Homo sapiens: one gene and its partner. The protein of the gene in region 1 interacts with the protein of each later gene in a pairwise test. Each region holds a gene or a part of one and is shown in the gene's direction. Other genes may lie near its edges.

What was found. The genes of interacting proteins can lie anywhere in the genome.
Region 2: the proteins of BDKRB2 (region 1) and CLCA4 interact in a two-hybrid assay, tested with the Homo sapiens proteins (one large-scale study listed by BioGRID and IntAct).

Annotation. Positions count from the first base shown.
Region 1 is NC_000014.9:96,207,839-96,211,338, forward strand, and holds part of BDKRB2 (B2 bradykinin receptor), read left to right. Parts: intron 1-3,500. UniProt on the Homo sapiens protein: Receptor for bradykinin. It is associated with G proteins that activate a phosphatidylinositol-calcium second messenger system.
Region 2 is NC_000001.11:86,550,078-86,553,577, forward strand, and holds part of CLCA4 (calcium-activated chloride channel regulator 4 precursor), read left to right. Parts: intron 1-3,500. UniProt on the Homo sapiens protein: May be involved in mediating calcium-activated chloride conductance.

The DNA of each region.
Region 1 (3,500 bases):
AATTACGGTACCTCAGGGTCATGAGTCAAACAATCAGACCTGCCAAGACTTGACACCCCAAATGCATCACTTCTGACATCCATTGGGTCCAGGAATCCCCTGCCTCATGAATATCCATCTTAGTGTGCATGCCTCCAAGAATGGGGAGCTCACTACTTTGCGAGGCAGCGCATTCCATCTTAGGAGAGTTCTACTGTTTAAAAGCTCTTCCTCCAACTGCCCCCACTGAGCAATGGGTCCACTTTCATTTCCTTGGGGTTTGTACCATTCTAGTCCTATTGCTTCTCTCTGAGCTAAATATCCACAGCTACTAAATCTGCCCCCCTTGAAAAGTGTTAAATCCTCAATTCCTCCTCTGAGCTCCTCTGGTTTTCCTGGGGACCTAAGGCTCTGCTTCCCCAAAACACCCACTCCAGGGTTGTTTTCTAGAACAAACGTAAGGCATGAAGTATTTCTTTGACTCTTTCATCACAGTGGGTTCTGGAAGATTCTGGAGGCTGGAAACATATGTGCCTCCCCCTCCCCACACACATTCCAAAAAAGTCATCACAGCAGAAAGCACGGTGGAACAAACAGCTCTCGGTTCGAATTCACCGTCACTTACTGGCCAGGAAAGTTATCTGAGCCTCAGTTTCTTCTCCTGTACAATGGGGAGCATCATTCCTATTTTTGAGGACCACTAGGAGGCTTACCTCTGTTTGTGCTGATGTAGTGAAAGGGGATGTCAGGCACACTGCAGGAGCTCAGGTACCAGACGGACTGTCTATGGAGGCAGGAGTGAGGGCCTGGGGCGGTCACAGAGGTTGCATTTGCTTTGCAGTAAGGCCATGGCCGCTTAAGGGTGTCCAGAAAAAAGCCCTGTCCGACATGCACACACTCCTGTGTCCAGGCAATGAGCCTGTGGGCACTGACAGCAAGAGTCCTTCTCACGCTTCTCTTCAGGGCTCAAACTTTAGATTTACTCCGGCCTGTCCCATCCCATTCACTGCCAACCCCTCTGAGCCTCTCTGATCTGTGCCACCGGTGAAGGGCAGTCGTGGGGCACAGAGAAGTGGCCCAGCTGAGTGACATCTGGAAATGAGCAGTGCCTGAGGGGACGCCCGTGGGGTGTTGTGACCTGTACAGTGCCAGGCTCCAGCACAGCCCCGTCGCTTCTGTGGTTCTTATCATGGTCATGAGGTCGCTTCTCCTCTTCCCTGCGGGTTTCCTAAGTGGTCACACTCCAGTGGCAGGGTGGTCTGCCGGAGAAAGACCAAAATTTGTCATACTTTAGAATCACCTGGAGACTGGTCACCCACGCAGGTGCGGGGGTCCTGCTCTGGGGACTGTGATTTGAAGTCTGGGTACTATTCACTGAAATGACAGACTGCGGCAAATCTCAATCAATCAAGGTTCATCGAGTTGATAAACTTCAATTGACATTTATCGAGAGTTTGAGGGTGCACCTGGGAAAAACATGAGCCACAGAAAATGTGTGTGGCCTATGCTCTCCGAAGAGTCATGAGACTTAGTGTTGTAAATCAAAGAGAAACTGACTGAAGCAGGTCTCAATTATTTTTGAAGTTTATTTTGCCAAGATTAAGGATGCACCCAGGAAAGAGGGACACGAAATCACAGGAAACATCTCTGGCCCATGCTTCTTTCAAAGAAGGGTCTTCACTATTCAAAGGGAAAAAAGCAGGCAGTAGGGGAAAGAAGGAAAAATCGGGGGAAGGTGGCCAAAAGAGGCAAGCAGTTGCACCCCTTTGAGCCTTTTCATTAACTTCACTGAATGCACATTTTTCATGTGAAAGAAGCAGGTGGAGGAATCATCAATTCCGCATTCACCTGGTGCTCAGTCAATCTGCATTTTTATATAAGATAAAATAATCATAGGGCTGGGCACGGTAGCTCACAACTGTAATCCCAGCAGCTTGGGAGGCCAAGTTGTGTGGATCACCTGAGGTCAAGAGTTCGAGACCAGCCTGTCCAACATGGTGAAACCCTGTCTCTACTAAAAATACAAAAACTAGCCAGGCACGGTGGTGCATGCCTGTAGTCCTAGCTACTTGGGAAGCTGAGGCAGGAGAATCATTTGAACTCAGGAGGCAGAGGTTGCAGGGAGCTGAGATCACACCACTGCACTCCAGGCTGGGTGACAGAGCAAGACTCTATCTCAAAATAATAATAATAATAATAATCATCATCATCATCATCATAGCATATAGGAAGCTGTCAGCTATGCACTCGTCTCAGGTGAGCAGAGGGATGACTTTGGGTTCTATCCTTTGTTCCATACCTGTGAAGCTAAGCTGTTAATTTATATCATGAGGGTGAAATACAACAGAGCTGCTTGAAGGCAAAGATCCTGGGGCCCACAAGGAATTTCACTGTGAGCAAAATGTGAGGGAAGTAAATAGTTATCCATTTAGACACAAAACGGGAGGCGGGTTGCATGACCCAGCTCCCAGCTAGACTTTTCCCTTTGGCTTAGTGCGTTTGGGGTCTGGGGATTTTAATTTTATTTTTCTTTCACAGTATTTACACATGTCCTTGAAGTGGAGAAAGCATGTAGGAAGAGGAGGTTAGGCAGAAGGAGGCCTGATCTCATCTTGCCTTTGTCTTGCTTTTATGCTGTACCTGGGGAGATCAGCACCATCAGCGTGACTCTAACAGACTTGAGTGTGAGGAGCTAGGCTTGGATTGCAGACCTCAAGTTACAATTGATGTGTCCTTGTTTTGTGGTAAGATCCACATCTTGAAAGGTTTCACCCAGCAAAGAACAATTTGTGGGGGCAGTCATGGGGAGATATCCGAGGCCTTTTCCTTTCTGTGGGGGTCTGGCTAATGTCTAAGGTTGTGGAGTAACAGCTGTCATTAGGAATAAGGATGACAATGTTGGCTGACTCAGTCTCCAGGCTTAACTTTCCCTTTGGCATAAAGAGTTTGGGGGTCCCAAGATTTCTGTTTTCCTTTACAGTACTCAAGGACTTGCTAATATCTCAGGGGATTTCAGCCACACTTTGAAACAAGCTACCTTAGCAAATGGTCTGTCCTGGACCCAAAAGCCACTCTCCTCAGGCCCTTCCTCCTAGTCCCACCAGCCAAAAAACTTGGGGACCCCAAACCTGTTCTTCACTCTCTGGCACCTGTGCTCATGTGCCTGCTGCCTCAGGAAAGGACAGAAACCCTCCCCGATCCAAGTTATTAGCAAACTGCCCATCTCCACAAAAATTTAAATGGACAGATTGTTAAATGCACACAGCTCACAGCCAGCTCCTTTCAAGGTAGATTTGGGCCCAAACATTTCGGGAAGCATCAGGCTGTGCCCCGCCATCCCTACCAAACAGGAATCCTCTCGAGGGAAAAGACTGGGCCTTTCCCTCAGCCCCTAGCACCCACTCATGCTTGGCACCTGCTGTGCTCTAAGAGTGCAGGGGTCACTCCCTGACCACAGAGGGAGGCTCTCTGGGGTTCTCCCGGAGCCTCGGAGATTGCACCTTGTGCATGCGCTGCTGCAC
Region 2 (3,500 bases), on another chromosome or scaffold:
CACTACTGTGTTCTGCTGCTTATGGTTGGACCCTTCTGCATGTTTTAATTACCCAGCAGAAGGTGATAGGCATGAACTAAGTTGTAATCAAGTGATTTTGTGGCTGCCATTTGTCATTCACTCTCTATAAACTCTGTTACATCACAAAGATATTTGCTTATAGGTACCTTTTAAATTTCATGAGAAGATAATAATTCATTTTACTAAAGATGTTTAAAGAACAGTTAATGCAGCTAATTCTGAATGATAGGTTTTTAGTGTCCAGAGGACAGTAAATCAGTATCAAACTTTTCTTACTCAGACATCACTATTTGAAAGAATTACTTGGATGGGCAAAAATTTTGTAAACATGGTCCTCTATAAGTACAAGCAGAAATTCAATTGTTTACAGGCATGCCCAGATTTTACAATGTTTCCTGACATTTCTCCCAGCCCTTCACAAAATCTTCGCGTTTAATATCTTCAAGAAACCCTATGAAATACTATAATCCACATTTTACAGAAGAAAAAACTAGGGGTCCGAAAAAAAAAATGATTTTTCTAAGATCATAGTAAGTATCACAGTCAGAGGTAAGAATCGCTTCAACCAAGGAGGCAGAGGTTGCAGTGAGCTGAGATCATGCCACTGCATTCCAGCCTGGGTGACAGAGCAAGACTCTGTCTCAAAAAAATAAAAATAAAAATAAAATTAAAAAAAAGTGCCTTTCATCCTTATATTTCCTCATGAGATAATAAGGTCTAGGGAGGGATCATTTCTTTTTTTTTTTTTTTTGAGACAGAATCTCGATCTGTCCCCCAGGCTGGAGTGCAGTGGTGCGATCTTGGCTCACTGCAAGCTCCGCCTCCCACGTTCACGCCATTCTCCTGTCTCAGCCTCCCGAGTGGCTGGGATTACAGGCGCCTGCCACCACGCCCCGCTAATTTTTTGTATTTTTAGTAGAGACGGGGTTTCACCGTGTTAGCCAGGATGGTCTCAATCTCCTGACCTCGTGATCCGCCCGCCTCGGCCTCCCAAAGTGCTGGGATTACCGTCGTGAGCCACCGCACCCAGCCTCTTTTTTTAATGTTTAAGAAAATGCAGTTTTTATCCAAAATGAGTTTGTGTACCAAATATTAATAGTTTAGCTAATCATTGTTATATTCGTTCATTATGTTATTTTTATTTCAATTCTTGCTTTTAAAAAACCCAAAACTTTAAAAATCCTTATGCCTTGTCTATTTTCTTTACCTTTGTTTTGTTTTGTTTTGATGGATAATTTTTTAATAAAGTGAGGTTTACATCACTGATATTTAAGAATGGCTGTATCCACAAAAGAAAACAAACCTTTTTGGCTAAGGGGTGAGGAAGTTAGAAAAAGCATGAGAAACAGGAAACACAAGAGGGGTGAGGCGGGGCAGGAGAGGAAGGTTGCAGGCACCTCCAGCTCACTCCCTGAGGCAGCACCTATGACCCTACAGATCAAGGGGCCATGAATGACAGGGATTCGGATTTCTTTCATTCTAGACTTCAGCCTTAACCTTTTGTTCCAGCACCAATCTAACAGAGCAGCACAGGCATTTCTAATCCAGTAGCAATGCTATTTCCTCAGCCAGGGCAGGTGCCTGGGCTGACGGGAGGCCTTCAGGAACACCGCCTGTCAGAAGGCACCACGGAGGGTCTCTGAGGTCCTGAAGACCAACTGGTGCCCGTGATCTCCAAACAGACAAATATTTGACCTTTGCCTTCAATGACATTTACACATAAATAGACATAAATAAAATTCTCCATAATTTATGCTCAAGTCTAGGAAGATGTGGCTCCCACAGTAGATTTTCTAATGACAAAAAAAATGTAGTAGCTGTGTGCGGTTTTTGAGTTTCACCCAGGTCTCACGGTAGCACAGAACATAATGGAGAAGTATTGCACGCACATTTAAAGTAAAACATGATACACTCACACTGTTGACAAGGACCGTAGTGATGCCCACTGCAAAAAAAATCCCTTATTTAAACCTGAAAAAAATGAAACACACCAACTACAATTGTTCAGGCTATAAAAGTTCTAATGTCGCAGCAAAGGATATTTATAGAAAAAATATACTTTTAAGAAAATAGCTGAAAAAATCTAAAGACATAAGGTATAAAAAGTTTAAAAATATGTATCTTAAGACAAAATATTGCCCAAAACACTTAAAACTGAATTGTAAAAAAATCACCTGTCTGAATGTAAAGGAGGTTGATGCAGCTGTGGTTCGCCGTCCTCTACAGTGGGGGACACAAAGAGAGACGAAGGGCCCAGGGCTGTAAGGACGTCAGGACCGGTCCAGAGAGGAGAAGTCTTCCAGGAGAACAGCCATCTCTGCCTGGCCCTCCACAGCGGGGAAAGTGAGTGGGACGGGCCTGGGGTTGCAGACCCTGCTGATGATGGTCTGTTCTGGGATTTCTCAGAATCAGCAGACAGGGCAGCAAGGCTGGGCAGCGGGCGGCAGGCGCACCCTCTACGGGAGCCAGTGCTCACGTGTCCACGCGTCAGACACAGCTGCGAGCGCTCAGGGCTCTGGTTCAGGTCTCCACCAGGATCTCCACCATGTGGTCCAGCTCGCCCAGATCGGACTTGCAGATGGAGCTGGGGCACGGGGTGACCGGAGCCAAGCCCTCGAGCCCTTCACAGGGGCCCGGCCCGGCACCCCCATCATGCCTGTCAGTACTGTGTCCAGGTTGTAGTAGGGGCTGTCCACGCCTGAAAACAGCTCTTCCATGTAGCGGGGGATTTTAGTCTCCAGCGTTTCATATATATCTGATCGAGTGATTTGCGAAAGCTTCCTCTGTTTTCTTGAGGGCCATCCATCTCCCAGACGCTCCTCCCTCTGCGGGTGCCTCGGCGTCTGTGCTGAGGTGACTGGGCAAAGGTTAGAAACTGAGCCCTGTGCGTGGCCGTCTCCCAAGCCAGAGGCAGGACGTGCCCCCTCCTGCTCCCACGCCGCGCGGCACAGAATCTCCATGAAGACCAAGTGGTCCAGCGGCGCCCACCCTGCAGCCTGGGGTGTGCGCCGTATCCCATCCTGCGTCATCTCCTCTTGGATCTGCCGGACCACGTGGCAATGAGGATTGAGCGGCACAGGTTGGGCTCCACAAGCATGTGGCAAAGCTGCAGCTTCACCAGGGACATGTCCAAGAGGGACTGCCGCTGCAAGCTGTACGAGGACACGGTCTTCAAGCCGGCCAGGGCTCCCTCCACGTCTTCCTGGTGGCCAACACGTTTCCCCTTCAGTCCTCGTGCAAACATTGTGTCTTTGAGAGAACGGTTATCTGGGTCCTGCCGTCTCGTGCATCCCACACGAAGGCCACAGAAGAGGCGAGGCAGCAGAGATCCTCTATTCCAGCAAGCTGTCGAAGCCTTTGTCACGACGATCCTGTCCGACCCGCGAGTCTGCCCGCTGGGTCCTCTGCTCAGCCGACGCCACCGCCGCTGCCGCCTGCTTCCCGCCGCTCAGGGAGGAGCGCCCGCCAGCGCGGGGCCT